Linked DNA regions of Homo sapiens: all the other regions are linked to region 6. Evidence: fine-mapped expression QTL. A gene starts in region 6. Each other region holds a variant in brackets. All regions are shown on one strand. Distances are between the middles of the regions. Region 1 overlaps RRN3 (RNA polymerase I transcription factor RRN3). Region 2 overlaps PDXDC1 (pyridoxal dependent decarboxylase domain containing 1). Region 3 overlaps MPV17L-BMERB1 (MPV17L-BMERB1 readthrough). Region 4 has its middle 44 kb from the start of MIR3180-4. Region 5 has its middle 19 kb from the start of NOMO1. Region 6 holds the start of PDXDC1 (pyridoxal dependent decarboxylase domain containing 1). Region 7 overlaps NOMO1 (NODAL modulator 1).

Evidence for each region. PIP is the estimated chance that this variant, and not a neighbour inherited with it, causes the effect.
Region 1: its variant is fine-mapped to the expression of PDXDC1 in whole blood (TOPMed, PIP above 0.99). The same link has a PIP of 0.9 or more in CD4 T cells and lung.
Region 2: its variant is fine-mapped to the expression of PDXDC1 in whole blood (INTERVAL, PIP above 0.99).
Region 3: its variant is fine-mapped to the expression of PDXDC1 in whole blood (INTERVAL, PIP above 0.99).
Region 4: its variant is fine-mapped to the expression of PDXDC1 in whole blood (INTERVAL, PIP above 0.99).
Region 5: its variant is fine-mapped to the expression of PDXDC1 in whole blood (TOPMed, PIP above 0.99).
Region 7: its variant is fine-mapped to the expression of PDXDC1 in whole blood (TOPMed, PIP above 0.99).

What each region holds. Positions count from the first base shown.
Region 1 is chr16:15,073,105-15,077,417 of GRCh38, forward strand. RRN3 (RNA polymerase I transcription factor RRN3) reads right to left here. Exons shown (of 18, transcript NM_018427.5): 10 at 3,454-3,546; 11 at 1,619-1,757. It also overlaps a transcript of PDXDC1 not described here. Among named protein-coding and RNA genes, the nearest start is that of RRN3, 19 kb to the right of the region's middle. The variant T/C (reference allele first, on the strand shown) is at 2,059.
Region 2 is chr16:15,032,045-15,036,357 of GRCh38, forward strand. PDXDC1 (pyridoxal dependent decarboxylase domain containing 1) reads left to right here. Exons shown (of 23, transcript NM_015027.4): 18 at 817-935; 19 at 1,234-1,355; 20 at 2,242-2,334; 21 at 2,413-2,509; 22 at 3,405-3,509; 23 at 3,972-4,313. The coding sequence ends at 4,231. Among named protein-coding and RNA genes, the nearest start is that of NTAN1, 22 kb to the right of the region's middle. The variant A/C (reference allele first, on the strand shown) is at 2,252.
Region 3 is chr16:15,463,188-15,467,500 of GRCh38, forward strand. The region is part of intron 1 of MPV17L-BMERB1 (MPV17L-BMERB1 readthrough); the gene reads left to right. All of the region lies in intron 1 of BMERB1 (bMERB domain containing 1), which reads left to right. Among named protein-coding and RNA genes, the nearest start is that of BMERB1, 31 kb to the left of the region's middle. The variant G/GATAT (reference allele first, on the strand shown) is at 2,159.
Region 4 is chr16:15,196,729-15,201,041 of GRCh38, forward strand. No RefSeq gene overlaps it. Among named protein-coding and RNA genes, the nearest start is that of MIR3180-4, 44 kb to the left of the region's middle. The variant C/G (reference allele first, on the strand shown) is at 2,369.
Region 5 is chr16:14,812,295-14,816,607 of GRCh38, forward strand. No RefSeq gene overlaps it. Among named protein-coding and RNA genes, the nearest start is that of NOMO1, 19 kb to the right of the region's middle. The variant C/T (reference allele first, on the strand shown) is at 1,765.
Region 6 is chr16:14,972,549-14,976,861 of GRCh38, forward strand. It overlaps PDXDC1 (pyridoxal dependent decarboxylase domain containing 1), which reads left to right and starts at 2,478. Exons shown (of 23, transcript NM_015027.4): 1 at 2,478-2,672. The coding sequence starts at 2,652. RefSeq lists a silencer at 1,344-1,638 and an enhancer at 1,796-2,559.
Region 7 is chr16:14,886,564-14,890,876 of GRCh38, forward strand. NOMO1 (NODAL modulator 1) reads left to right here. Exons shown (of 31, transcript NM_014287.4): 28 at 198-299; 29 at 2,533-2,652. Among named protein-coding and RNA genes, the nearest start is that of MIR3179-1, 13 kb to the right of the region's middle. The variant A/G (reference allele first, on the strand shown) is at 2,338.

The DNA of each region.
Region 1 (4,313 bases), 100 kb after region 6:
GTTTTTATAAAGACATATTTTCAAGTTTCATCTGCCATATTTTTTATAAACACAACACCATTAAAAAACAACATTATCCAGCCAAGCACAGTGGCTCCTGCCTGCAATCCCAGCACTTTGGGAGGCCAAAGTGAGAGGGAGCCCGGGAGTTCAAGGGCAGCCTGGGGAACACAGGGAAGCTCTGTCTCTACAAAAAATCAAAAAATTAGCCAGGCATGGTGGCACGCCTGTGATCCCAGCTACATGGGAGGCTGAGGCGGATGAACCGCTTGAGCCCAGGAGGTCAAGGCTGCAGTAAGCCATGTTTGTGCGACTGCATTCCAGCCTGGGTTAGAGTAAGACCGTGGCTATTTAAAAAAAAAAGAAAGACAGACATTATCCATTAAAATACCATTAAAACAAAATGCTACTTTTAGTTTACACAGATTTTCCTCTGAATATAATAATCTAACACCTGCAAGGAAGCAGGCCCTCACCTCACACACTGTGGCAAGGTCAGAAATGCAAACCCTTCTGAAGAGCAATTCTATCATTCGTGTAGCAAAAGACCTCTAATCCGATCATTTTACTGTTAGTAAACAGCTGAATATATAGGCACAAGTATGTTCATTATAACTGTTACTTATCATGGTGAAAACAGTAAAAGACAGTTAAACCCATGTGACCAACAACATTTATTATTACGACTTTTTTTTTTAGAGATGGGGTCTTGTTATGTTGCCCAGGATAGTTAGTCTTGAACTCCTGGCCTCAGTGATCCTCCCACCTTGGCCTAAGTGCTGGGATTCAATAACAATTATTTTAAAACAGGCAATGATATGAGAAAATGTTTATCTTCAGCATCCATGTAAAGGGCAGATTATGAAACACTTGTGTTTAGTGTGACACCCAAATTCACTAAAAAATACTCTCCTACATATACAGACGCTAACAGAAAAGGGAAAAAAGTCAAACTTCAAAATGCTCACAATGGTTCTCTGAAGAGTAGAAATGTGGCCATTTAAATTGTTTTTATCCTTTCCTGTAGTTTCCAAATTCTCTAATCAACATGTATTATTTTTATAACAGCAAGACCGTTAAAACAGTAATGCAGTCAACTCAGATTCCAGTTCTATTATTCTGACTCACTGAGCTCATCTTAAATCTTAGCAATGTGAATGGAAAAAAATTCTGTTTTCGCCTGGCAAAGCCTTTAAAGTTCCATGAAGTCAAGAAGCACATATAGTACTAACACTGGCACAACAATGGTGCCAGGCAAAGACCCTCTAAACTCAATACATAACGGAGCACCATATATTAGTGCACCCTACATCATTCTTCAGTGCATTCAGCAACTTGAGCGTAATTTGATCTAAAACTGGCCAAACTCCATATATAATCTTTCAATACAACAATCAGTGAAAAGACAGAAGACAAATATAACTCAGCCAGAATCCCAGTCCCATTTTCAAGCTATGTGACTGGCAAGTAACTTGACCTCTTTAAATCATCTTAAACTCATACTCAATAGATATTTTTACAGGATTTTTAGTATTACTAGAGATAATGGATGGAAAATGCCCAGCACAAAGCCAGGTACACTGCAGGTGTTCAATAAACAGTAGCTACTGTGATTTACCATCTACATAGCAGACATCCTTCATGTAGGACAAAACCAAAGACATCAGGATGTCCAGGCGCTCGGCTACAGGATGCACCATCTGGTCGAGCCGTTCAGGACCAGCCTTTGTTTCATGTTCAGTTTCTTCATCTTCATCCTTTGAAGACAAAAAGTAAATACTAACATTAAAAAATTCAATGTCAAAGTGGTTTAGTAGGAAAACTGTCATAAGTGATTATTTCCCTTAAAAGATAAAACAAAGAGGCTGGGGAAAGCGGCTCACATCTATAAGCCCAGCACTTTGGGAAGCAGAGGTGGGGGGATCACTTGAGGTCAGGAGTTTGAGACCAGCCTGGCCAACATGGTAAAACTCTGTCTCTACTAAAAATACAAGAATTAGCCAGGTATGGTGGTGCACGCCTGTAATTCCAGTTACTCAGGAGGCAGAGGCAGGAAAA[T/C]AGCTTGAACTGGGAGGTGGAGGAGGCTACAGTGAGCCGAGTTCGTGTGCTCCAGCCTGGGCAACAGAGGAAGACTCTGTGCCCCACCAAAAAAAAAAAAAAAAAACTAAACTAAAACAAAGAAATGGACCACGCACAGTGGCTCACGCCTATAATTACCAACACTTTGGGAGGCCAAGGCAGGAGGATCACTTGAGCTCAGGAACTTGAGACCAGCCTGGGCAACACAGTGAGACCTGTCTCTACAAAAATAGAAAAAAAGTAGCTGGGTGCGGTGGTACACTGTAGTCCCAGCTACTCGGGGAGGCTGAGGTGGGCAGATCACTTGGGCCCAGGAGGTCGAGGCTGGAGTGGGCCAAGATCACACACTGCCACACTCCAGCCTGGGCAACAGAGTGAGACCCTGTCTCAAATTAAAAAAGAAAGAAAAGAAAGAAAGAAATGCAGACACCTTTCCAGGCAGGGGTCTCATTCAGGGATGTGAATCAGAACCACCAGTGAAATTTAAAATAAAAGCCAAGACTCACAGCACCAGCTTCTGATTCTCATTGAGAAGACCCAATGAGACCTATCCATGCAAAAATCACAGATGCCCCCTACCTCTGCTCCTGGTGCCCACCATGGCGGGTGCTTTTGGTGCCGGGCCCCCTTTTGCAGGTCGGGATATCCACCTCCCCACTGCTGTGAGTACTGGCGGCCAATAGCTCACAGCCGCCTACTTTCTCCAGAGCTGCCCTGAGCAGAAAGGAGCCAGGACCACCCTTGCACTCTTTCCAGCCCCTCCCCCTTAGAACCAATGACTGATTGACAAGGCATCAGAAAAGGACATCTCCTTGGTCTCAAGCTGGGAACAAACTCTGTAGACCAATCCATGCCCCAGAATGCCTGGTGGGAGCAGGCTGTAGCGACCTCCCAAGTGAGACCCGGCCCCCGTTTAGCTCCCCTGCCCTCTTCTGCTCCCTGACACCCTCTGTCCCAAGGGCACCTGAATCCCTGTCTCAGACTCTCCTTCCACTGAACCCAACTTCAGATACCACCCAAAAGAAGTAATGCTATAAAGTGTACAAGTGGTAAAATGCAGAAATTAAACAGGTATGCTTTTCTATTAACCACGCCCTCACAGACAGCATCTGGCTTACAAAAACAAACACTGAAAGTTACAAGAACAAAAGTGAAACATACTTCACCAAACCCAAATTCAAAGCCTTGGAAATAGACCAACTATGCTAAGTGCTAAATGACATGGCAGCAAATTACTCATATAAGGAATCGTTTTCAAGTTTGCTGAACTATTTTAATTCTTTCAATCTAAAGCCTTAACAAAGATGAGCAGCACTAGCTGTTTCCACCCTTTATGATAAACTTCATCTCCACTTTCATTAATAAACTGCTAACCATATTAAACAATCCTTCCGTGGAATCTGTCCCACCACAAGTTTGAGTTGCTGTTTCTTCAGCATCTTCAATACCCTGCCGGGATGCATTCACCTATAACAAAGGGAGAAAAAAAAAGAATAAAAGGATTTAAAAAATACAACTATGTTATTTTGGGATGGAAATTCATCTGATATACGCATGTTCAAGGTGTCCAGATTAGTGCCTTATATCACACCCCAACACAATACACAATTATGGTGCAAGCCTGTAAACTGACCTAGGTCATGAAGGAATTTAAATATAATAAACCAAGCCCCTTTTACTACATACTTATATAAAATCGACAACTATCACATGATGCTCTATGCCAGGCAGCCTCAACAAATTCAACATTTATTCTAGCTCTGATATGGTCTGGCTCTGTGTCCCCACCCAAATCACTTTTTTTTTTTTTTTTGAGGCAGAGTTTTGCTCTTGTTGCCCAGGCTGGAATACAATGGCAAGATCTCGGCTCACCGCAAACTCCGCCCCCCAGGTTCAAGAGATTCTCCTGCCTCAGCCTCCCGAGTAGCTGGGATTACAGTCATGTGCCACTGTGCCCAGCTAATTTTGTATTTTTAGTAGAGATGGGGTTACTCCATGTTAGTCAGGCTGGTCTCGAACTCCTGACCTCAGGTGATCCACCGGCCTCAGCTTCCCAAAGTGCTGGAATTACAGGCATGAGCCACCGCGCCTGGCCCCAAATCTCATCTTGAATCGTACTCCTCCTGTAAGTCACACATGTTGCTGGGGGGGGACTGGTGGGAGATAATTTGAATCATAGGGTAGGTTTCCCCCATACTGTTCTCGTGATAGTGAATAAGTCTCAAGAGATCTGA
Region 2 (4,313 bases), 59 kb after region 6:
TGGGCATTTACAAAAGCACAGTGCAAGCAGGCAATTTGGCCAGCGTGGCGCTCAGGGAGGGGAGTTGCTGAATGTTCTGTCTGTAGGTGCCGACTCTCAGCTACCTAGGAGAAGATGCCAACAGGTATATATCACTCACTGAGAATGGTTACTATCCAGGGCATATAGAGAATTGCAAATCAGTAAGAAAAAGAACCCAGCTCTCGGGGAGAGAACTGGGTGCAGTCCTATGGCTGCTTTCTCGCCTTCAGAGGTGAGGCAAACCTCTTTTTGTATTGCCCATGAGACTTCCAGACCTTGTATGGAACTAAAGACTTAGGCTTTCAGCTGGGCACGGTGGCTCATGCCTGTAATCCCAGCACTTTGGGAGGCCAACAGGAGCATAGATGACTTGAGGCCAGGAGCTTGAGTCCAGCCTGGACAACATGGCGAAACCCCATCTCTAGAAAAAATACAAAAATTAGCCAGAGGTGGTGGTGCACACCTGTAGTCCCAGCTACTCGGGAAGCTTAGATGGAAGGATCAACTGAGCCCAGGAGGTGGAGGTTGCAGTGAGCCAAGATCATGCCACTGCACCCCAGCCTGGGCCACCAAGTGAGACCCTGCTTTAAAAAAAAAAAAAAAAGGCTTTCCTGTGACTTTCTCTTTACTCCTGGCACACTTCCAGAAAGTTTGTGGTCTGGAGACACTCGCAGTAGCTCTTTTGCCCACTGGTTCCACTGCATTGTCTTGCTAATATTTAGAGGTTTCTAATCCTGTATCAGAAGAGACATTTGATCTTTTAAGCTGAAATGCTGTGGTTTGATGTTGTTTTAGGTATGAACATGCTAATGATGATAAGAGCAGTTTGAAATCAGATCCCGAAGGGGAAAACATCCATGCTGGACTCCTGAAGAAGTTAAATGAACTGGAATCTGACCTAACCTTTAAAATAGGTAACTGCTTACTTTGTAAGTCAGCTGTGGGGTTTGGAAGGACACTTGGTAACCGGCTTTGAAGACGACGGCTCATCCCTTAGCGGGCTAGCGCCTCTCGGGCTGGGTTCCAGGCGAAGATGCGGTTCTGAGACCTCCCTCCCCTTCTGCAGCCTTGCCAGGCCTTTCTCTCCGCCCTTAGAATCTCCATGGAGGAGACCCCTTTGTGTGTGGTCAGGACCCTGAACAGGAGAGTAGGTCCACGTCTCACCCATGACAGAGGACTGAGAAACTCAAGTTTGTCTCGTTACCTTTGCAGGCCCTGAGTATAAGAGCATGAAGAGCTGCCTTTATGTCGGCATGGCGAGCGACAACGTCGATGCTGCTGAGCTCGTGGAGACCATTGCGGCCACAGCCCGGGAGATAGAGGAGAACTCGAGGGTCCGTAGCACCCATCAGTGTTCATTCCTCTTCTGAGTTTTGTCCCACCAAACAGCAGGGGCCACGAGGAAAGCAGCTGCCCTTGGGATGTCTGTTCGTTGTCTCTCAAAGTCTGTCAATGTTTCCTGTAAGCTGGGCCTTGTGCCAGGTGTCAGAGATGCCAAGTAGGTTTGACACAGCCCATGCCCCAGTGATCTCACAAGCTCAGGGGGAAAGATCCACATAGCCACGCTGTGTAGTAACCCTGCCTTAGAGAAGAGGGCGGGTAGCTGGACACTCAGGCAGACACATTCACCCCTGCCACCAAGGTCAGGGAGGACTTCTGCTCTGGAGCTGTGTCCTGAGGGTGAATGAAATGGGCTGTTGTATGTGTGGTTCCCCCTACACCCCTTCCCTATAGCACTTCCCACCAGGAATAGACCTACTGCTGTGGGTCCCTTAGCATGGAGGACCAGGATACAAGGCTGATAAGGTATCCTCCAAACAGATGATTACTTCCCTAAAAATCACTCAAAAGGAGAGAAGAGGGACCAAGGTAAGACTGCTCTGAAAGGAGAGAGACACGAGCCATTGGACATGCGGCCGAGAAGCCAGCTTCATTCCTTTCTGGGTGGACTCCTTAAGGTTTCTTTCCAGCCTGACTTTATGACTTCTCTGTTTTCAAGAATACGTAGCAAATGAGGCTGGTCACCAAGGTGTGTCTGCCTAGGCCTCTATGAGCATGTTATCTGCTTGTCTTTGAGTTTCTGTTCGTTTTACGCCGGCTTTTCAATGCAGGATTTCATTGACCTGCTTTTGAAAAATTCCCTCAGTGCTGTGTTACTAGCTCTTCTGGGCCCCAGGTGAGAACCTTAAACAAGTAATGTCTTTCTTGGTCTTGCCACAGCTTCTGGAAA[A/C]CATGACAGAAGTGGTTCGGAAAGGCATTCAGGAAGCTCAAGTGGAGCTGCAGAAGGCAAGTGAAGAACGGCTTCTGGAAGAGGTGAGGCCCCCGATGGGCAGCAGGCTGGGGGAGCCGCCGTGAGGCCAGGTGGCCCTGAACTCTGGTCCTGTCTTGCAGGGGGTGTTGCGGCAGATCCCTGTAGTGGGCTCCGTGCTGAATTGGTTTTCTCCGGTCCAGGCTTTACAGAAGGGAAGAACTTTTAACTTGACAGCAGGTAGGACGGCATAGCCTCTTCCCAGGTCTTGCTGACCTTGGGAGGTTTCACCAAATGCCCTTGGGTCCCAACACTTCCCACTGAGAATCCCGCCCTGGTTCCCGTTCTTCATCACTGGGTGTGGGCCGGACATCTGAGGAGACAAGTTCTGGTGTGCCCTGTCCTCCTCCCCACCGCACCCTGGCGGCTGAAACAGCAAGGAAGCAGCTACCCACTCTCCACAGCTGTCACCACCGCAAGGCCATGAGGACACGCCCACTCAGCCGTGCAGACTCTCAGGGTGCTGTGTCTTGGGCATTTTGGTTCAGGGTTAATACTTCTTGTCTTCATGTGTGTTCTGCCCCAGCAGAGGACAGCTTTTGCAAGTGGCAATGCAGAGACTGAAGCATGGAGTGCTGGCACGGTTTATTTTGAACCAGGCAGCCAGCAAGCGTTTCAGCCGCTGGAATGTGGGGAGGGTGTTAACAGTCCGTGACTCCTTTCCTGTTCTACCAAGGAAATAATTTCCTACACTCGAGCCCCTTCCTTCATTCTTTCCCAGGAAACGATGACTCCATTGTCATGAAAGCAAAAGATAATCTGATTTCTAATCTGCCAAGCCTTAGCCTTCAGCAAAAAGGCACCCACTTCTTGTGGCTACAGTACGTTTCCCTGTTGGGCCTGGCTCCCTGGGTGTGCTTACGCCATACTGCTGGCGGATGCTGGCGGTACTGGCCCTGTGAGGTGGCTTTCTCTAGCTCACGGCACATTCATAAGTGCCCTTCTCTCCACCAGTCTGTGGCAGGCTCAGTGGCTGGAAGGAGGTTATTGGGGAGCAAGGCTGTGTGAGGGCAGGTGGTGTCTTCAAGGGCAGCCTGTGCCTGTAGCTTCTACCCAGCCCTCTCCTCTCCCGCAGGCTCTCTGGAGTCCACAGAACCCATATATGTCTACAAAGCACAAGGTGCAGGAGTCACGCTGCCTCCAACGCCCTCGGGCAGTCGCACCAAGCAGAGGCTTCCAGGTAAGTGACGCCTCTGCACCGAGTTCAGGTAACAGGTTTCCCCTGTTGACTGTTACTTGCGTTTGTTTTCTGGGTTCTTGAACTCCAGAGGTCTATTTCTCTTAAGACCAACTACTACCATCTCTTTAACCATCTTGGTAGCCGTGGGATTCAGCCTTGAAGAAATCCCACGGTAGTGCGCTAAGGGGAAGTTGGGGTCTTGAAAGATGACATTGTCACTGTGGTGTTTACCCTCCTGGGCGTTTCCTAATGAAGATGACCTTAGAGTTCCCCGGCCTGGGGAGCATGTTGGTGTCAAGCTAGCAGCTCTCGGTTTTCTCATCTCCTAAAACACCTCAGAGCCAGTAAAGGTTTCTGCTGAAGCTGTGTTGTGAAATAAAGCAATTATCTGTTGCAGAGACAGCCTGTGTTGCAGAAGTATCCTCACTGAGTTTCAGCGCAGTCTGTCTGCCCTTTCTGTAGGCCAGAAGCCTTTTAAAAGGTCCCTGCGAGGTTCAGATGCTTTGAGTGAGACCAGCTCAGTCAGTCACATTGAAGACTTAGAAAAGGTGGAGCGCCTATCCAGTGGGCCGGAGCAGATCACCCTCGAGGCCAGCAGCACTGAGGGACACCCAGGGGCTCCCAGCCCTCAGCACACCGACCAGACCGAGGCCTTCCAGAAAGGGGTCCCACACCCAGAAGATGACCACTCACAGGTAGAAGGACCGGAGAGCTTAAGATGAGACTCATTGTGTGGTTTGAGACTGTACTGAGTATTGTTTCAGGGAAGATGAAGTTCTATTGGAAATGTGAACTGTGCCACAT
Region 3 (4,313 bases), 490 kb after region 6:
CTCACCTCAGCCTCCTGAGTAGCTGGGGCCACAGGTGTGCACTAGTATGTCTGGCCAATTAAATCAATTAAATATATATATATTTTGTAGAGGCGGGGATCTCACTATGTTACTCAGGTTGGTCTTGAACTCTTGGTCCCAGGCAATCCTCCTGCTTTGGCCTCCCAAAGCCCTGGGATTGCAGGCATAAGCTACATCACCTGGCCTGAAATACGCTTGAAGGCATCCTTTGAACCACTGTTATCACAGAAGTGTGGTCAGGTTCAGTGTGGAGAGTGAATGAGAAGCTGGGCAGGAGCCTGTGCGAGTTGGGCTTTGTGGAGACACACAGAAAGATGCCCCCCACTTTAACCACCTTCCCTTGCCTCGTCGTTTGACTGCTGAGGTCTTACTCACACTCTGAGACTGTAGCTTTCACGTGGCCTCCTCTAATATATTTTCAGTGTAGCCTTAACAATGAATCGTAGTAACTTCTCACCTTACATGCTCCCCAAAAGATGTCACTTTGGGAGAACATATTCAAGGAACCCTCCCCAATCCTGACCCCCATCCCCACCCCAGCTCCTGCTGCTGTTGACACAACTGCCTTAGCTGTGAGGCTGTGCCATCCATTGGAACCTGGGACTTTCCAATGTTGGGATGCCTCAGCATCATCAAGCAAAATTGGGGTTCTTTTTGTGTATGCTTTAAAAAAAAAAAAAAAACTTGAAGCATAAAACTATTACTGGAAAGTGGTCCTGATCCAGACTGCAAGAGAGGGCTCTCGGATCTTGTGCAAGAAGAAATTTGGGGCAACTCCATAGAGTAAAGTGAAAGTAGTTTATTAGAGAAGTAAAGAATCAAGGCCGCGCACAGTGGCTCATGCCTGTAATCTCAGCAGTTTGGGAGGCCGAGGCGGGCAGATCACCTGAGGTCAGGAGTTCGAGACCAGCCTGGCCAACATGGCAAAACCCCATCTCTACTAAAAATACAAAAATTAGCCAGGTGTGGTGGTGGGCGACTGTAATCTCAGCTACTCAGGAGACTGAGGCAGGAGAATCACCTGAACCTAGGAGGCTGAGGTTGCAGTGAGCTGAGATTGGTCCACTGCACTTCAGTCTGGGCGACAGAGTGAGACTTCATCTTAAAAAAAAAAAAAAAAAAAAGGATTCCAAAGAATGTCAGGTATGGTGGCTCATACCTCCCAGCTCTTTGGGAGGCCAAGGCGGGAGGATTGGTTGAGGCCAGGAGTTCAAGACTACACTGGCCAACATAGAGAGACCCTGTCTCTAATTTTTTAAAAAAGAAGAAACTAAAAAAATGGCTTCTCTGTAGGCAGAGCAGTCTCGAGTGCTGCTGGTTGACAATTCTTGTGGTTATGTCTTGATCGTATGGTAAACAAGAGGTGGATTATTCATGAGTTTTCCGGAAATGGCACAGGGAATTCCTGAAACTGAGAATTCCTCTTCCTTTTAGACTATATTGGGTAACTTCCAGAAGTTGCCATGGCACTTGTAAACTGTCATAGTGCTGGTGGGAGTGTCTTTTAGCATGCTAATGCATCATAATTAGTGTATAATGAGCAGTGAGGATGACCAGTGGTCACTTCTGACACCATCTTGGATTGGGCAGGTTTTGGCCAGCTTCTTTATTGCACCCTGTTTTATCAGTGGGGTCTTTGTGACCTGTATCTTGTGACCTCCTGTCTCATCCTGGGACTAAGAATGCCTGACTTCCTGGGGTTGCAGCCAAGTAGGTCTCAGCCTTATTTTACCCTTATTCAAGATGGAGTCACTCTGGTTCAAATGCCTCTGACAAAGCCAGCATAGATGAAGACCTAACACCCTTGAGCAAATGAAAGATCTGTGTGATGGAACAGTTGCGTGTCTTGATTGGGGTGGTTGGTTACCTGAATCTGTACATGTGATAAAATTGCACAGAACCACACACACACATACACACACACACCAATGAATTGGATGTAAAACTGGTGAAATCTGAATAAGGTCAGTTATGCAAAATGTCATCACTGGGGAACATTGGGTGAAGGTTTTTTAGGACCTCTCTGACATACAAACGGATATAAATCAGCAATTCTCTCCAAATAAAAAGCTAAACAACAAAACCGACCCCAAACACTGACACCTTGTATCCATCATCCAAATTTGGTCAATGCTAA[G/GATAT]ATATATATTTTTTTTTTTTTTTTTGAGACTGGGTCTCAATGTGTCACCCAGGCTGGAGTGCAGTGGTATGATCTCGGCTTACTGCAAACTCTGCCTCCTGGGTTCAAGCGATTCTCATGCCTCAGCCTCCCAAGTAGCTGGGATTACAGGCACCCACCACCATTCCAGGCCAATTTTTGTATTTTTAGTAGAGACAGGGTTTCACCACGTTGGCCAGGCTGGTCTCAAACTCCTGACCTCAGGTGATCCGCCTGCCTTGGCCTCCCAAAGTGCTGGTATTACAGCTGTGACCCACCGCACCCAGCCCTAAGATCTTTGTATTAGTCCTTTTTAGAAAAATAAAACAAAACCTTAAAGATTCAGCTGGAGACTCCTACTCAGTCCTTTTTCTTTCCAGAAATGACCCTTGTCATGGAATTAATATGTATTTATCTTTTCCACATTTGCTTTTACTGTATTATGTGCATAGTCATAAACAATCTGTGATATCCTGTTATACATTTCCTTTGGTAGCTTATTTTGCCACTAAACATGTTTTCAGGATTTATGCATGTTGAAACATGTAGATCAATTCTTTTAATTTTTTAACTGCTCAAAGTATTTCTAATAGGTGAATATACCACAAATTCTTCAACCAATCTTCCACTGATAATAGGTTGTTTTCCATTTTTCAGTATTACCAGACATTGCTATCATGGCCATCCAGGTATAAATGCCTTTTTGGGTCAAGAGTTTCTGCAGGGTTTTTATCTAGAATTGAAAGTGCTAAGCAGACAGTATGCACATACTAAACTTCAGTAAACATTGAGAAATTGCTATCCAACTGTGACTCTATAAATTTATGGCTGTCCCAGCAGGTGGTAATAATCACCATTTCCTTATATTTTCACCAGCCAACCTGATCTTTCCAGACTGTTAAAAGTTTGCCAATCTGATGGATGTAAAGTAGTATTTCATTGTTATTTTATTATTGTGTTTTCCTGATTTCCAATGAGGTTAGACATCTCTTCATAGGTTTATTAGCTGGAATTTCCTCTTCTGTGAATCCTGAGGTCGTACCCTTTTGCCCTTTTTTTTTCTATTGTGTTGTCATTGTCATAGGTATTTTTTGTATTTTGTTCCCGATTGTTTTGTATGTTTGTGTATTATAAATTTCAGCTTGTGGCCTGTCTTTTAAAAAAAGACTTTTTATTTTGAGATTATTGTAGTTTGCGTGCAGTTGTAAGAAATAATACAGAGATCTATGTATGCCTTTCACCCATTTTACCCCAATGGTGACATTTTGGACAGCTAAATACAGTATCAAAGACAGGAAATTGACATTGATACAATCCATTCATCCTATTCAGATTTCACCAGATTTATGTGTGTGTCTGTGTGTGTGTGTGTGTGTATTTAGTTCTATACAATTTTATCATATATTTAGATTTGTGTGACTATCAACAAAGTCAAGATACAGAACAGTTCCATCACAAAGGTTCCTCCTGCTACTTTTGTATAGTTACAGTTACCTTGCCCCATTCAACCCCTAGCAACAACAATTAGTTTTCTATTTCCATAATTTTGTCATTTCAAGAATATTAAAGAAATGGAATCATGCAGTATATAACCTTTTTGAGATTGGCTTTTTCACTCACCGTAATTCTCTCAAGATCCATCCAAGTTGCTGTGTGTATCAGCCATTCATTCCTTTTCATTGCCAAGTAATATTCCATTGTATGGATGTACCATGGTTTGTTTTACCCATTGAAGGACATCTGGATTATTTCCAGTTACAGGCTATTATGCTTAATGCTGCTATGAATACTCTTATGCAAATTTTTGTGTGAACATAAGTTTTCATTTCTCTGAGATAAACGCTCAGGAGTGCAGTTACTGAGTTGCTTCAAATGCATATTTAGCCTTATAAGAAATTGCCAAACTATTTTCTAGAGTGGTTGTACCATGTTACATTCCCATTGGCAGTGCACAAGGGATTCAGTTTCTTCCCATCCTCACCTGCATTTGGTGTTATCATTATTTTTTATTTTAGCTAGTCTGATAGGTGTGCAGTGACATCTTGTGGTTTTAATTTGCATTTTCTTTATATCTAATGCTGTTGCACATCTTTTTATGGGCTTATTTGTATGTCCATCTGTATAATCTCTTCAGTGA
Region 4 (4,313 bases), 220 kb after region 6:
CAGGCATGCAACACCACATTTGGTTAACTTTTTGTATTTTTGGTAGAGACAGGGTTTGTCCATTTGCCCAGGCTGGTCTCGAACTCCTGACCTCAAACAATCCATGCACCTCGGCCTCCTGAAATTACAGGTGTGAGCCACTGCACCTGGCCAATCTAATCATTATTTACTGGTCACCTACTAGTTGCCTGGCAGATGTGATTCCTCTCCTTCAAGGAGTTAACAGTCTAGGCAGGGTAATTGTGCAAAACTTGTAAGATTAAAATTCTGATAAAACATTAAGAGAAGAGATCAGAGTGCCATAAGCCAGAATAAAGAGGGTGAAACTGATTCTACTCAGGGAGTCAGGAAAAATCTCCCTGAGGAAGTAATGTCTACACTAAAACCTGAAGGATAAGGAAAAGTTAACCTAGTAAAGAGTGGGAGGGAAGAGAATTTCTGGCAGAGAAAACAGCACATGCAAAGGCTGAGTATTTAGGAAACCAGAAGAATACCTGTGTGGCTGGAGTATGTTAAGTGAGAAGGAGAGAGAAACGATAATTACTTTGGCTATGGAACTCCAGGCTATTATCTGGGGTGACATTTTCCCTCAGGTTGGAATCCAGATATGTGAGACAATTAACATTTCATAAAAATAACTTTTGAAGCAATGTTTGTCCACCTTTCTGTATCTCAGTTGTCTCCTCTGTAGAATAGTGTTAACCCTTCACTGGATGATCATGAGTGTTAAATAGGATAACAAGTATACGATTATGACAAGAAGGCTGGGCCCTTTTGAGCACAGCAGCGACATCCTCATCATCTTCTTCAGTGTTTAGCCATACCACTCCAGAGAGCTCCACCAAGAACCAGAGAGGTGCTTCCCTACCTGCATGACTTCTCTGAGATGCTCTCTAGCCCACACACAGCAGAGGCACCCACCTGACACCTTCACCTGGCCACATCTGATTGGACCAGAGTGTACACCTCCTACTACCCGGACCTATCATATTCCTACACCTGGGAAACTCTTACATTCAGATAGAGGCGCAATTGATCAGAGTGCATTAGAAGCTGGAGCTGTAAGGTCATGAAGAAGAAGTCCCAGGGCCCTGGGCAAGTAGAAACTGGGAAACAGCAAACCCTGAGATTCCAACGGCAGGCGCCAGTCTGCAGAGAAGAGAATGGAGCAGATGTGCAGAGGTAAGCTCCAGAGAGTGAAATGGAGAAAGCGGCTGATTAACAACATTCCAAGTCCCATGAGGTCCAGCTGCATACGTCGGATTTCCAGAGAGCCTTGTGTGTCCAGACAGTAAAATTTCATATCCACTTTAATCTCTTTGAATGGGTTTCTATTCCTTGCAATTGAATTATCACTGTCTCAGAGGCCCATCAAAGTGGAGAGCTGAGGCCACCCTTCCTTAAATCAGACCTAAAATGTAACCCTATCTTGCTAACAGGACATAATACCGGAACTGAGGACCCCACCACCATCTCAAGGCCTTCACACAGGCTATTCCCTTTGCATAGAAAGCTCTTCCACCCGCTCCTTTTGCAAAACTAAATCTCACTTATCTTCCAGGCTGCCCCCTTTGAGCATCGCTTGTAAAGACTCCCACTCCAAAGTGGACCCTTGCTGTGGTTTCCATAGCTCTCAGGACTTCCCTTTGCATTGTGTAACTCACTTTGGATCACTCGTAAGATGGCTGCCACCCTACCATATGTGACATTCCACACTTGCATCCTGTTTCTTGCTTATTCCCCAGGGTTTGAGTGGGGGACACATAGTAGCTGCACAATAAACATCTGATTAATGCATGATGGATAGTCTAAAAGGATCAAATTGACATTCTACTGAAAAAGAAGAGTTTCACTTTAGCCTACTAGGTGCTCTACTCTATGCAAGGTGTTGGAAACACAAAGATGAATTAGACATCATCCCTGTGTTTAGGTCTTGAAAAGCCTAAGGGAACAGGTGGATAGGTAGATAAATACGTTTATGACAATGTAACAACGTGAGTGTTAGGAGAGAGAGAGACTACAATAGGTGTATTTCTGAAGGTTTTTTGGATGACAGGGGAAGAGAGAGAGATGTTGTAGAGGGTCCTAGTGGCCCCCACACCATCACTCCTCAGAATTTTTGCAGAAAACAAATGTAGTGAGCATCTGATTGTTGGCTGCTCAGCATCTACTCTCTAATTCTGAATATAGCACTTCATTTTTCCTTTTGGTAAAGCACCTTCCTGCCCTCTCAGCCCACCAGCACACTGGTGTAACTGGTATCAATTCAACACCTCTGTCCCCAGAGTCAAGGATGGATGTGTGTCCCAAGCCTAGTCAATCAGAATACTCCATCCTCACAAGGAGTGGTTCAGGGATGATCATGTGA[C/G]AGTTTAGTTAAATGAGAGTCAATCTGGGAGTGTAAATTAGTTCAACTATTGTGGAAGACAGTGTAGTGATTCCTCTAAGACCTAGAGGCAGAAATGCCATTAGACCCAGCAATCCCATTACTGGGTATATATCCCAAAGGAATATAAATCATTCTATTATAAAGATACAGGCACTTGTATGTTCACTGCAGCACTATTCACAATAGCAAAGACACGGAATCCATCTAAATGCCCATCAATGATAGACTGGATAAAGAAAATGTGGTACATATACACCATGGAATACTATGCAGCCATAAAAATGGATGAGATCATGTTCTTTGCAGGGACATGAATGGAGTTGAAAGTCACTATCCTCAGCAAACTAATGTAAGAACAGAATATCAAACACTGCATTTTCTCACTTATAAGCAAGAGCTGAAAAATGAGAACACAAGGATACCTGGGGGGAAAAATGCACACTGGGGCCTGTCAGTCAGAGTGGTGGGGGACAGAGAGCATCAAGAAGAATAGCTAAGGGATGTTGGGCTTAATACTTAGGTGATGGGATAACCTGTGCAGCAAACCACCATGGCACATGTTTACCTATGTAACAAACCTACACAACCTGCACGTGTACCCCTGAACTTAAAAGGTGAAAAAAAAAAAGATAAGAGTATATCTCAGAATTCCTAGGGAGAAGCAAGGAGAAAGATAAGCTCTTCTGTCACTAGAACCCCTAACCTGGCAGCAGCCTTCAGCTGAGCTGCTGAAGCCTGTCTTGGGACTACAAGGGGAAAAAAACTCCCCAAAAATAAATCTTACAAGGAAAGTAGCAGGCCTGAGAGAAAAAGCCACTTCTGATGTCAGTTTGAACATCTGGATCCAAATAGATTCATCCTGGATTTTTCAGTTGTGAATCAACAAATTCTACTTTTTCTGTTTAAGCTTGAGTTCCTGAACCTCAACACTATTGATAGTGTTTGGCTGGATGGGGGCTGGCTTGTACATTGCAGGATGTTTAGCAATGTTCCTGGCTTCTAGAGCCATTCTCACCCACGAGTCATGGCCACCAAAAACAGCTGCAATCATTGCCAACTGTCCCAAGGGGCAAAATCACCTCCTATTGAGAACCACTGGTTTAAACCAGTTTTCAGGTTCCTATTGCTTGCAACCAAAAGTCACGAGCATACAGTAACCTATCAAATAATTCCCTACCCAATTTCCAGGAATAATTCTCACTCCTACATGCTTTTACTTTCCGTGGTACCTGGAACATCTTTCTATGGGCTTTGCTTTCCAAAGCCAGTCTGTTGATTTTACATTTTTTAAATATTGGTGTCAATGAAAGTAAGTCAATCAGATCAAGAACAGCTTAGCTCTCAGTCCCAGCAGTACTTGTACAAGTGACATATTTGGGGACATTGATTATACTTTTTCTTCCTCTTAAAAATTTAAACATCTTCCCTCATTTACTTTCTTTATTTTAGAATTCTCAGCAGTCAATTTTCTTTTATCTACAGGCCTTCCCTTCGATGGGAAACTAATCAATAAGAAATTAGATTTTTGCCAAGGTATTTTAAAGTAATGTAACCAGCATATTTTTCTCTCATTCATGACTTTATTATTGTGAAATGAAAACAGAAATACCACATCCTTGAAACCCTCATTTTATTAAGCTCCATCACAGCTACCTTCATTCATCGGAGCCATCTCTTCCAACGTCATTGTTTTGGGTGAAGCTTGTGTTTGATCACCAACCTCATATTTTAAATTGAAACTCAGCTGGAGTAGAGTTCTTCCCTCTGAATGAGGGATAGCAGTCTGGTAATTAGCAGCAAAGCTCAAGCAGACAGGCTGCATCCACTTATTCTATCTGAAATTCTTTTCCTTTTCTTTTTTTTTTTGGCCAGTAATTACTCTTATCTTGGTGAAGCTGACCCACCTCTTGGCCCCTCAATTGGA
Region 5 (4,313 bases), 160 kb before region 6:
CTAATTTTTGTATTTTTAGTAGAGATGGGGTTTCGCCATGTTGGCCAGGCTGGTCTCAAACTGCTGACCTAAGATGATCTGCCCACCTCGGCCTCCCAGAGTACTGGGATACAGGCATGAGCCACTGTGCCTGGCCTCAAATTCATATTTGAACATTTATTCAAATTTGAATTTTAGGGGGACATAATTCAGCCTGTAGCACTGTCAACCTAAAAGGAAGAAGCTGAGGCAAAATTAATATAAGTAAAGACTCTGTTTGGGCCAAGCTTGAGGACTGTAGCCAGGGAGCGTAGATTCAAGTTTCCCTGAATATACACTCCAATTAGCAGCAGTTACAAGTGGATTTATAAAGGCAAAAAAGGGGGACATGGAGTGGGCTGGTACACAGTTGGTTGTCAGGAATTCTCACTGGTTTTCAGAAATAACATTGATGAGTGATTGGCTATACATTGTTAAGCTATAAGGTGTGGGTTATAGCATCCAGTGGGGGCATTATTAGATTAATTTATAGCTACTTGTGGCAATGGCAAGCAGTTTTAAGAAATGAATACCGAGCTCAAAGGGGGTATGTAGGACATGATTGCTATCTCGTTCTATTGCCTCTCTGGGCCTAATAATTTAAAAGGCTTGTATTCCTCAGATGAAAGTTCTGTTCTTTTCTCAGCACCTTGAATGGCTGGAGAGAGCACCACCCCATCCTTGACCACGCTGAGTGCTGGCTGGACTTCAACTGGGCCAGTACTCCCTTTTCCCTTGTGGAAGGTCCCCTGATTAATGCTTACCTGAACGCCTGCTCTTCCTTCAGTCCCCAGTTCTCTGCATTCCCCAGCACTGGGAACAGAGACAGCATGTCTGTGTTATACAATAGGGAAGAGTATGGGCTCTGGCTTTAAACTTTGACTCTGCCCCCTTGTTAGCCCAGCGACTGTGAGCAAGTCATTTCACTTCACCCAACTTGTTTTCCTTTTTGTACATTGGAGGTTACTAAAAGCACCTTACCTGTCCAATTGTAGAGAGGATTAGGTGTATTAATGGGCATGGCACAGTAAACACTCACAAAATGCTAGCTACTATTAATTGTCAAGATTATGTTGGTTGCAAGGAGCAGAAACTCATATGGAAGTCATTTAGGCAATAAAAGGGGATAATTTATTGACTCTCATAACCAAATCCAGGAAGGTAGGAGAGCAGTTGAGTGGCAGGGGCAACTGGAAAGAGACCATTCCCCATGTCTGTCTGTCTGTCATATCTTTTTCATTTTTATATATATATATTTTTACCATGGTGGGTTTTTTTTGTTTCTTTTCTTTTTTTGGTTGTTTTTTCCATCCTTGGCTAGAACCATGGCTGCCAACAAGCTTCTCTGTTTCATAATGGGAGACCTTCTCATGTGGTTATGATGTGAAAAAGATCCCAGGGAAGGACTCTGATTGGTTCAGCTCGGGTCACATAGCCACCCACGTGGCCAGGTCAGGGGCTGGGGTGCTTAGGTGGGGCAGGGGGTTCTGGGTAGATAAAAATAATTAATGCCTTCTGCCTTATCTAAATGTTCTTTGTACTATGCCTGGCACTTGGTAGAAATTAAACAAATTCCCCTTTTTCCCTTTCTGTTTGACCCTCATGTCTACTTTTTATTACATAAAAGAGTAATCCAGAAAAGAAAGTCAGCTCATTGGAGACACTGGGTAGGGAGAAAAAGCTTTTTATAGAATATTAGGTAGGAGTAGTGGCTTAGGATGGTAAGAGCTCTGCACGAAAGGAAGA[C/T]ATTACGGTCTAAGGCCACCTGGGAGATCTGAGTCAAGCAGCTCTATCCCTTCCTGAGGACAAAAGAGATTTCAGGCAATGACTCATATTTGTTTGGAGAGCTAATTGACAAGACATATTAAGAGTTTTAGCAATTGTTCATGCTTTTTGATCCAACAAATTCACTTCTAGAGTGTCAAGAACTGTGCTGGTCTAAGATATTATCCTACATGGAGGCTAGCGAGTTTTATGGATGTGGGCAGAAGACATGAGACTCTGGATTGAGAGATAAAGGACTTTATTTTTCATGGTACAACAGGAAGCTTGAGCTTCATGTCTGCACCAGTTCCCTTTGACCCCCAAGTCCCTCAAGGGTGACACAGGTTGACATGGTTTGGCTGTGTCCCCACCCAAATCTCATCTTGAATTGTAGTTCCCACAATCCCCATGTGTCATGGAAGGGACCCAGTGGGAGGTAATTTAATCATGGGGGCAGTTATCTTCATGCTGTTCTTATGATAGTGAATGAGTTCTCACAAAATCTGATGGTTTTATAAGGGGCTTTTTCTTCTTTTGCTCATTCTTCCCCTTGCTGCCGCCATGTGAAGAAGGACATGTTTGCTTTCCCTTCTGCCATGATTGTAAGTTTCCCGAGGCCTCCCTGAGTCAATTAAATCTCTTTCCTTTATAAATTACTCAGTCTAGGGTATGTTTTTTGTTTGTTTGTTTTTTTGGTTTTTTTGAGACAGAGTTTCACTCTTGTCACCCAGGCTGGAGTGCAATGGCAGGATCTCAGCTCACCCCAACCTCTGCCTCACAGGTTCAAGCAATTGTCCTGCCTCAGCCTCCTGAGTAGCTGGGATTACAGCCATGTACCAACACACCCAGCTAATTTTGTATATTTAGTAGAGATGGGGTTTCTCCATGTTGGTCAGGCTGGTCTTGAACTCCTGACCTCAGGTGATCTGCCCACCTCAGCATCCCAAAGTGCTGAGATTACAGCCATGCCTAGCCTTTTTTTTTTCTTTTTTTGAGACAGAATCTCACTCTGTCGCCCAGGCTGGAGTGCAGTGGCTCATTCTTGGCTCACTGCAACCTCCACCTCCCGGGTTCAAGCGATTCTCCCACCTCAGCCTCCTGAGTAGCTAGGATTATAGGTGTGCACCACAATACCTGGCTAATTTTTTGTATTTTAGTAGAGATGAGGTTTCACCATGTTGCCCAGGCTGGTCTCAAACTCCTGAGCTCAGGCAATCTGCCCACCTCGGCCTCCCAAGGTGTTAGGATTACAGGTGTGAGACACCACACCCAGCCTTGGGTATGTTTTTATTAGCAGTGTGAGAAATGAGTAATACACGGATGGATCCAGGTAGAATCTGTGCCTGCAGTGGATTTGCATCACACCTGAGGAACCCCAAGTTTAGGAATCTTGGTCTTTTCAACCTTTACCCTGGATGGAGGGAGACATTGTCATTATAATCCTTTCTTTTTCTTTTTCTTTTTCTTCTTCTTTTTTTGTTTTTTGTTTTTTTGAGGTAGAGTCTTGCTCTGTCACACCAATGTTGGAGTGCAGTGGAATGATCTTAGCTCATTGCAACCCCTGCCTCTTGGGTTCAAGCAATTCTCCCACCTGTCTCCCAAGTAGCTGGGATTACAGGCACCCACCACCACACCCAGCTAATTTTTTAAGTGTTTGTAGTAGAGACGGCGGTTTCACCATATTGGCCAGGCTGGTCTCAAACTCCCAACCTCAGGTCATCTGCCTGCCTCAGCCTCACAAATTGGTGGGATTACAGGCATGAGCCACTGTGCCTGGTCTGGAGATATTATCGTTATAATCCTAATCAGCAAATAAATCTGTCTTCTACTATATTAGCCCTATCTTCCAATGCTATTAGCTATACAAACATCCTTATGAAGACGGTCTAGAACAAACGCTGACACAAGATGTGCAGAAATGTAAGAGACACATGGGGAATTGTTGCACAGCATAGAGAATCTTTCCTAAGGAAACTACATCTGAAACACACACAGAAAATGTATGCTTAAAGCAACAATAGTTCAGCATTAGGGGAAGAGGTTAAACAGACTGTTGTTGGGATATTCTTCTCTTTCTAAACATGTTTCTGAAGATCTTGGAATGGGAAGTGTAAACGTTCAACTTAAAGTGTAAAGTGGAGCAAAAAGCTGCAAAACTTGAATGTATGTTTTTATTAACTACGTAGAGACATCTATTCTAGGAAAACCTCGGGGGAGACTTGCTAAGATGTTCATAGTCCTCCTCTGGGCAATGAGTCTAGGAGCCACTGTTTTTCTTCATTTGGAATGTTCATAGTCCCCCTTGGCCAGGGTTCTCTGGTTTGCAGAGATGAGAGCTGGTTTTATTGAGCACTGACCCTGCCCTGAGCACATGCGACATTCTTGCCATACACAGTCTCATCAGCTGGAGTTTACTTGCTTCCTTTGACTCATGGGGAAACCAAGGCTCAGAGAAGTGACAGCACCTTGTTCAAGGACACGCAGATGATCTGGTCCAAATTGTGATGCTCCTGCTGCCACACCACAATGAT
Region 6 (4,313 bases):
GGGTTTCACCATGTTGGCCACGCTGTTCTCCAACTCCTGACCTCAGGTGATCCGCCCACCTCGGCCTCTCAAAGTGCTGGGATTACAGGCATGAGCCACCGCGCCCAGCCTTTTTTAAATTTTTAAATTTTTTATTATATTTTGTTTTTGAGACAGAGTCTCGCTTTGTCGCCCAGGCTGGAGTGCAGTGGTGCGATCTCTGCTCACTGCAAGCTCCGCCTCCCGGGTTCACGCCATTCTCCTGCCTCAGCCTCCAGAATAGCTGGGACTACAGGCGCCCGCCACCATGCCCGGCTAATTTCTTTTTGTATTTTTGGTAGACACGGGGTTTCACCGTGTTAGCCAGGATGGTCTCGATCTCCTGACCTCGTGATCCGCCCGCCTCGGCCTCCCAAAGTGCTGGGATTACAGGCGTGAGCCACCGCGCCCGGCCCAGCCTCTTATTTGTATTTTTATTGTTTTTTGAGATGGAGTCTCGTCTTATTGCCCAGGCTGGAGCGCAGTGGCACAATCTCGGCTCACTGCAACCTCTGCCCCCGGGGTTCAAGTGATTCCCCTGCCTCAGCCTCCCAGGTAGCTGGGATTACAGGTGTTTGCCACCACGCCCAGCTAATTTTTTGTATTTTTAGTAGAGACGGAGTTTCACTCTGTTGGCCAGGCTGCTCTTGAACCAGCCTCTTATTCTTTTACATACTATTTCCAGCACAACTGTCCAAGATGGCAGTCAATAAATGTTTGGCTAAATATAATAAATAATACGGTTGATTATTTCCACTTTTTCATGTTGGGTTTTCAAAGTCTACTTTTAAAACAGTAAAGTTAACTTTTCTCTCTAGTATTTGTTTTGTAGAATCTATTATACTTTGTAATGTAATCCACAGAAACTTGGAGGTGACTTTAGTAAAATTTACTAGTTTTGAATGATACCCATGCTGAGGTGCTCAGAGGTGAAATGTACTAACATATATCGATGGATGGATATATGGATGCATATGTGATTAAAGCAAATATAGGGAAAATTAACTGTAGAATCTAGGTAGTGGGTATATGGTTGTTCACTGTACAACTGTTTAAACTTTTCTACGTTTGAAAAATTTCATAACACGTTGGAAAAGTGACTTGTTTTGCTCAAGCAGGGGTACATTCAATCTTCAATTCTTGAAAGACATAAATCTATCTTTCCTTCTGTTTGGAAAGCTCTTTAGAGAGTCAGAATAATCCCCACAGTACAGTCTAAACCAGCACACAAGGGTTTTTTGGTAGAAAATAATTTTATTAACATAACCAGGCAATTTACCAAATACAACGTAGATAGCTCAAAACATGGAGTTACTGCGCTGAAAATGTGACCCTGTTTACACAGATTTCGGGACGAAGAGTATAAAACAGGAGAGAAAAGGAGTAAGATTGTGGTTGTAGCGTCATCGCAGAGGTGAAGTGTTCCATTGATTGCCACTGTGGTAGTCTATATCAGTTTCCCACATTAAGGTGGGAGGAATCTACTAAGCAAATGTACGCCCTCCCCATTCGTTCGAAACACATTGCAGTAAAATTGCAAAAGTGGCCGGGCGTGGTAGCTCATGCCTGTAATCCCAGCACTTGGGGAAGCTGAGACGGGAAGATCGCCTGAGGCCAGGAGTTTGAAGCCAGCTTGGGTAACATAGTGAGACACCCCTACCTTCTCTATTAAAATGAGATTTTAATTTTTTTTCTCTTCAGTTCATCGGTTAACAAGATAAAAAAATTAATAAAAAATTAACTTTTTAAAACATTTAAAGTAAAGTAGGAGTGGAAGCAGTATGTGGACTCATGGGGCTTGGGTCTGAATCCTACCTAGATCGGCACTGCGAAATGGGGATAATGATCTCCTAGAGCTGCTGAAATAGGAAAATGGAAGAACAGCAGCTGATGTATTAATATTATCATTATTACTACTACCCATTACCTGACAAGTGATAATTGTGACATGAAAGAGGCTGGACCGGTTGTTACAACAATTTTTTCCGTCTAGAATTCGGCGGTAAGGTCTGAGACAACACCTCAGCTTAGATCAGTGCCTTCTCTGAACAGCGTTCACTAAGCAGCCCCCAACCCCAAAACCCCCAAGTCCCCGGGCGCCGAGGACGCTGCGAGTCCTGCGCATGCGCAAGGTTGCCCACTCGCTCACCGCCTCCTTGGCGAATGGCCTGTTCCATTCTCGAGGGATGCCGGCGGGAGGTGAGGCGGGAGACTTGGAAGCCTGGGCCCGGAAGTGAGGTGCGTCACTAGTATTTCCAGCCTTTCACTCCATGAATAGTACTTTGTGATTATTATACTTCTACCTTGATGATTGCAACAGGCTGCTGGAAAGAGTTTGGTGAACAATCCACCGGGCATCCTCCCCCCTTCACCTGCGCACGTTAGGGAGGGCCGGCGTGGCGCCCAGGTACGGAATCCCAGAGGGCTCCGCCCAGCGCTACGGGGCCCCGCCCCGCCGCCTCTCAACCATCAGGTTCGGCAGCCCGCGGCGCCGCCTGGCAGCTCCTCCTCTTCTCCGCCCCGCCGGCCGCGGGCGCGGGGGACGTCAGCGCTGCCAGCGTGGAAGGAGCTGCGGGGCGCGGGAGGAGGAAGTAGAGCCCGGGACCGCCAGGCCACCACCGGCCGCCTCAGCCATGGACGCGTCCCTGGAGAAGGTCCGTGCCGGGAGGGGGCGATGGGGACGGTGCTGCGGCCCGGGGCTCCCGCTTCCGAGGCAACTGTTTCCCAGTCGCGAGCTGCCATTGTGACCCGGACAGGGGGACGCGGGCTGACAGGCCCTGCCTGAGGAGGCCTCGCCGGGAGGGCGGCTGGGGCCCGGGCGCGTCACGGGGCCGGGTGTCTCTTGGGTCCCCGTGGGCCGAAGAGGCTGGGCGGGGTTCGGTGGGGGCCGCGACGGGCCCGGAGCCCAGGACTGGGACCGCGGGGCCGACCTTGGGCCCTGCCGAGGTTCCGCGAGTGGCCGGCCTGAGCTCGGCTGGCCCTTTCGGAGGACCGGGAGCTCTCCGTTGGCGGCCCCAGATGCTCCCGGAAAGAAGCCGCAGTTATTTCAGAGCCAGCTGCAAACCTGTAGGTTTTTCTTGGTCTCCGAGTTAGGAATGAAAATTGCCAAAGCAGTGGTTTTCCAACTTCAGCCTGAGTGGGAATCACCTGGGGCCTTTGGTAAAATGCGGAGGTTCAGTCCCGGGGTCAGAACCTCTGGGGGCGGGACCGGGAACTGCGTGTTTAACCGCCACCGCCCCGCTCCCACTCCGCCCCACGCAGGTGATTCTGATGCTGAGCCTGCGATCACCGGGCGAGAACCTCTGAGTTCCAGAAAGGGGTGGGTGTTGCGTAGATTGCGAATTGAGTTTTGGGGATCGCAGCTGCTCCACAACTTCCTGGCTCCCCCATTCCAGTGGCGAGGAGGGATCCCCGAGTCAACTCGAAATCCACTGGTAACAGAGCCTACCTCTGGTTTCCCCTTGGGGGAACGGCAGCGTGGTGTACCAGGCTGACTGCTCTACCATGTGAAACGGATTCTCATTGTCCCAGTGTTAGGGCTTGTAAATGGAAACCAGTTTGGGTTTCTTCACGGATTCCTGCTTTCGGTACCTGACATTCTGCCCTCCCTCAAAGCCCTTCTGTCTGTTCCAGCTTGGGAGTCTGCTTGTCCAATCCAGTGCATACCCGGTTTTTCATGCATGTGGCATTCAGGAGCAATGCTCGTGTTTTAAGACGGCTACATTTTAATTTTGAGCTGGTAGGAATAATATATTTTGTCTTTTTTCAAGGCAGCAGCTGCTGTAGATTTTGTTCACTTGTCACTGGAGAGTTGAAGGCAATAATTGTAAAGGTTGGGCCAGATGTCTTCATGTGCTCACAGTGGTATAGCCTACTCCTGGGTTGCTTAGCATAAATTGGGTGGAAGACAAGAAAAAGATAATATGGTTTTCTTGTGCCATCTCTGGGGTGAATGTTACGTGTTTTCCTGGCTGGGAATAAAGTCTTTCCGGTCGTCTGATTAGCAGGGTGTCTACCTTTTGGTACTTTGAGTTTGTCCAGATGAGTGGTTCTTAAAGCAGGGGGCAATTTATTTCCCCAGGAGACATTTGGCTATCTCTGGACATAGTTTTGATTGTCACAATGGGGGCAGGGAGGTGCTGCCGGTACCTAGTGGGTAGAGGCCAGGGACGCCTCTAAACATCCTACGTTGCACAGGACAGCCCCCCACGCTGGAGAATTCTCTGGCCCAAAATGTCAGCAGTGTTGAGGCTGAGAAATCCTGGTCAAGATCATGTTTATAACACCAGCAGTTG
Region 7 (4,313 bases), 86 kb before region 6:
TTCTGTGCATGATACATAACTGGATGGAGTCTCAGATGACAGAGGGATGTGTGATGTCTATGGAGGGAGCTTTCTTTTTCAAATATCCATGTTTCCAAAGACACCCACCCAGAAAGCGGCTGTCCTGAGGATGTCTGCTATGAAATATTGATTGTGTTTCAGTTTCAAAGCATGTCTGACTTTGTTTCTCCCTCCAGGTCAAGCTTTACAAAAGCGAAAACCTCGACAATCCAATCCAGACAGTTTCCCTTGGCCAGTCCCTGTTCTTCCATTTCCCCCCACTGCTCAGAGACGGCGAGGTAATGCCTGTGGCCGGATTCTACCTTCTGCCTTTGTTTTAATAATTCTGCTGTTTAGTTTAAGGAAGCACAGTTCTCTCCTTTTCTCCCTAAATACCACTCTGCAGAAATACGCTCTCTGAATCAAAAGAGGTTGGGTTCTGTAGGGATTATTTTTTCTTCATTGTTTTTCTGTTTACAAAAAGAATACATATTCATGGCAGGAGATTTTGGGAAAAAGAAGACATAAGCCCATCATCCAGAAATAGCCACTGCTAACACGGTGATTGGTATCCTTTGGGTCTTTTTTCAGGCACGTGTGCGCATGCATGTATAAATATAAATAGACATTTATTTTAATAATTCAAAACTGACACTGTTTTGTACATTGTTTTGTAATCCGTGCTTTTCAATGAAGAATTTATCACAAATCTGTTCCTCATCATCAAATCTTTCTTTTTTTTTTTTTTGAGACGGAGTCTCGCCTTGTCGCCCAGGCTGGAGTGCAGTGGCGCAATCTGGGCTCACTGCAAGCTCCGCCTCCTGGGTTCACACCATTCTCCTGCCTCAGCCTCCGAAGTAGCTGGGACTACAGGCGTGTGCCACCACACCCGGCTAATTCTTTTTTTTTTTTATTTTTAGTAGAGACGGGGTTTCACCATGTTAGCCAGGATGGTCTTGATCTCCTGACCTCGTGATCCACCTGCCTCGGCCTCCCAAAGTGCTGAGATTACAGGCGTGAGCCCCCGTGCCTGGCCAAATCTTTCATACTATGATTTTTATGGACAGTAGTCCATAAACTAGGAAACGCCATGATTTATTTAACCAAGGCCTACTGTTGGGCATGATCGACTCTTGCACTTTGAACATATCACCCCATGCTTTCCTGCTAAGAAGTCCACTTTTAAAAATGCCTTGTAATTTTTAAAAATTCCTCTATTTAACATTCTGCTATTGAGTTTAAGGAAATACAGTTTCCTCATGATGGGGGATCCCTTGAATGAGATGAGTTGCTTTTCTCTTGCTGCTTTGAACGTTCTCTCTGTCTTTGATAATCTGATTATAACGTGTGTCGTGTAGAACACTTGCAGCTCCACCTTTTCAGTGTCCTTTGGGTTCCATGAATCTGGATGTCTCCCTCCTTGGAACTGGGAAGTTTTCAGCCATTATTCTGGCCGTCATTTACTGATTATAAAGTGCTTATTATCAATTCTATTTGGACAGAGCTAACTTGTAGTTGGTGTGGGGAGTGCAAACTTTGCAAAGAATTTGGTTCTTTTCTGGTGGTCTTAGCCTGAGGATGTCAAGTGTGAGCCTAGAGGGTGACGTTTCCTCTCCTGGCTCCTTACCACCTGCCGTGAAGATGATCTACTCTGGCCTTTCTCTGTGGAAAATGGCTGCAAAATAATGAAACAGGCTGTCACGGAATTTTCTCCTCCTCTTTCTCCAGGGGTGTTGAAATAGTCACTTCCTACAGCGATGCGGAAACATCTTGGGCTTTGGGGTCACACTTCCCCTGAGTTCAGAGCCTTCATAGATGTGTGGCAGCCTTCTTAGCTGAGTGACCTTGGGCAAGTTACTCTTAGTCTCTTCGTGCTTGACTTTCCTCGTCTATAAGACGGGGTGATGATCCCGACCTTGCCAGTGGTAGAAAGCAAAGCAGCCGCGGGCCTCATGCAATGTGCATGGTGCCTGGCAGCTGGTCGGTGCTCAGCACACAGAGCTGTGATGGGTCTCATGCAATGTGCATGGTGCCTGGCAGCTGGTCGGTGCTCAGCACACAGAGCTGTGGCTGCCCCTGGTGCCGTTCCAGGGATGCTGTATTTTTAGGATTTGCCAGCTTACGAGCCTCTCAAGCATCGTCCCTTTGAAGTCAGCCCCGTTGTGGATCCTCAGTTGTATCACGTACCTCCCTCATCAGAATTGGCTCATAATAATTTTTTGTGTTTCATAAAGTCAGATCCTCAGAGGACCGTAATTGTCAAGGTTGGGTACTCATAAAAAGGCTGCAGGCTCTGACAGCCTTATCAGAAGCCACAGTCTCAGAGACACTGGGGAC[A/G]CATGCCCGCCACTGATGGAATAGCCCGCTGAGGTTGATACTTTGAAGGCAGCAACCTTGGTTTGGATGTGTAGTCTTGGGGATTTCTTTAAAAACATAAAGTTCTTTACATCACAGCCATACGTTAGGTTTTAGTTTTCATTTGCTTTGCCAGAGCTGTCCTTGTAAAAATAACTTCTTCCCATGTGTGCACAGAACTATGTTGTGCTTCTGGACTCCACACTCCCCAGATCCCAGTATGACTACATCTTGCCTCAAGTTTCTTTCACCGCAGTGGGCTACCATAAACACATCACCTTGATTTTTAATCCCACGGTAAGTAAAAGAGGGAGTTAAAAAAAAACCCATGGGCTGGGTTTGGTGGCTCACGCCTGTAATCCCAGCACTTTGGGAGGCCAAGGCTGGTGGATCTCTTGAGCCCAGGAGTTTCAGACCAGCCTAGGCAATACGGTAAAACCCCAACTCTACAAAAAATACAAAAATTAACCGGGCGTGGTGGAACGCACCTATAGTCCCGGCTACTCGGGAGGCTGAGGTGGGAGGATCACTTGAGCCTGGGAGGTTGAGGCCTCGATGAGCCATGATCATGCCCCTGCACTCCAGCTTGGGTAACAGAGTGAGACCCTTTCTCCAGAAGAAAAAAAACAAAACAAAACAAAACCAAACAATCCATGGGGTGGCGAAAGAAGGCATGTCCATACAACCTGTGCTCCAGATCGCAGGTTGCAGGGCAGATATTTAAAGGGCTCCTGGCATTGGGTCACTTTCTCATTCTGCCTTCTGGATTCTGGGCTTCCCCAGATTGTTTTTAGCTTTTCTGAGCACTGATGCCTGCGATTCCCTTTGAGGAGGAAACTGGTAATAAGAGCAGTGTAATTGTTTAGATCGGTGGCTCAGGAATGATTTTGGGGGAGGAGGGACACCACTATCGCTGGTGTGGCGTGTGCTTCTCCATGAGGGAGCACATGGTACATGGCCACGCAAACCTCTAGAACCAACTGCTACTTTACAGGAAATAGGGAGGACCCAGGAGCACGCAAATGACTCCACAGGGATGCAGGACAACCACCTGGAGCCTGATTTGTTTGACAAATAAATTGCAAGGAAAAAAAAACCAACAACAGATGGACAGAATACCTGTGGGTTAAAAGAAACTTAACTTATCGCTTAATTCATTGCAATATGTGGCCCTTACTATTTGCAATATGTGTATCTGTTGCATACGGTCTGTCCTGTATCCGATAGGCTGGAACAGTGGAACAAACAAAACATACACGTATCTTTTACCTTCTTGATAAAATTGTTTAGTGATTCCTAAAGCTCAGATGCAGTATTGTCACCTGATGATTAAACAGACACATCAGCAATAGCAAAAACAGAGTCCAGGGCTCAGCCTCAGGACTGCTGATTCTGAACTTGACGGGGTGAAAGTGTAGCACAGGAGTCTGCATTAAAAACAAAAATCTGGCCTCATAGCTACTGTGTTGGTTGTTGCTTCTAGGCCTTTTCAGTGGGCAGAATAAGAACTTTATTGTTTTCAAAAAATGTAACTGTAAGTGGAACAATATCCTCCGATCCTCCTTTTTCCTTTTTTGATAACGACACAGCATTCCTCTGTGTGGATATACCGTGTGTCTTAGGCCATTTGGGCTGCTATTTTGTATCTTAGACTGGGTAACTTATAAACAACAAACATTTATTTCTTACAGTACTAGAGGCTGGGAAGTCCAAGATCAAGGCATTGGCAGATTTGGGGTCTGGCGAGGGCTTGCTGTCTGCTTCATAGATGGTGCCACCTAGCTGTGTCCCCACAAGGCGGAAAGGGGCAAACAAGTTCCCTCAGGCCACTCTTACGGGGCATTAATCCCTGACTTAATCACCTCCTAAAAAGGGTGTCCTCTTGACACTATCACATTATGGATTAGGGTTCAACCTATGAATTACGTAGGCACAGACACATTCAGATCCTGGCACTA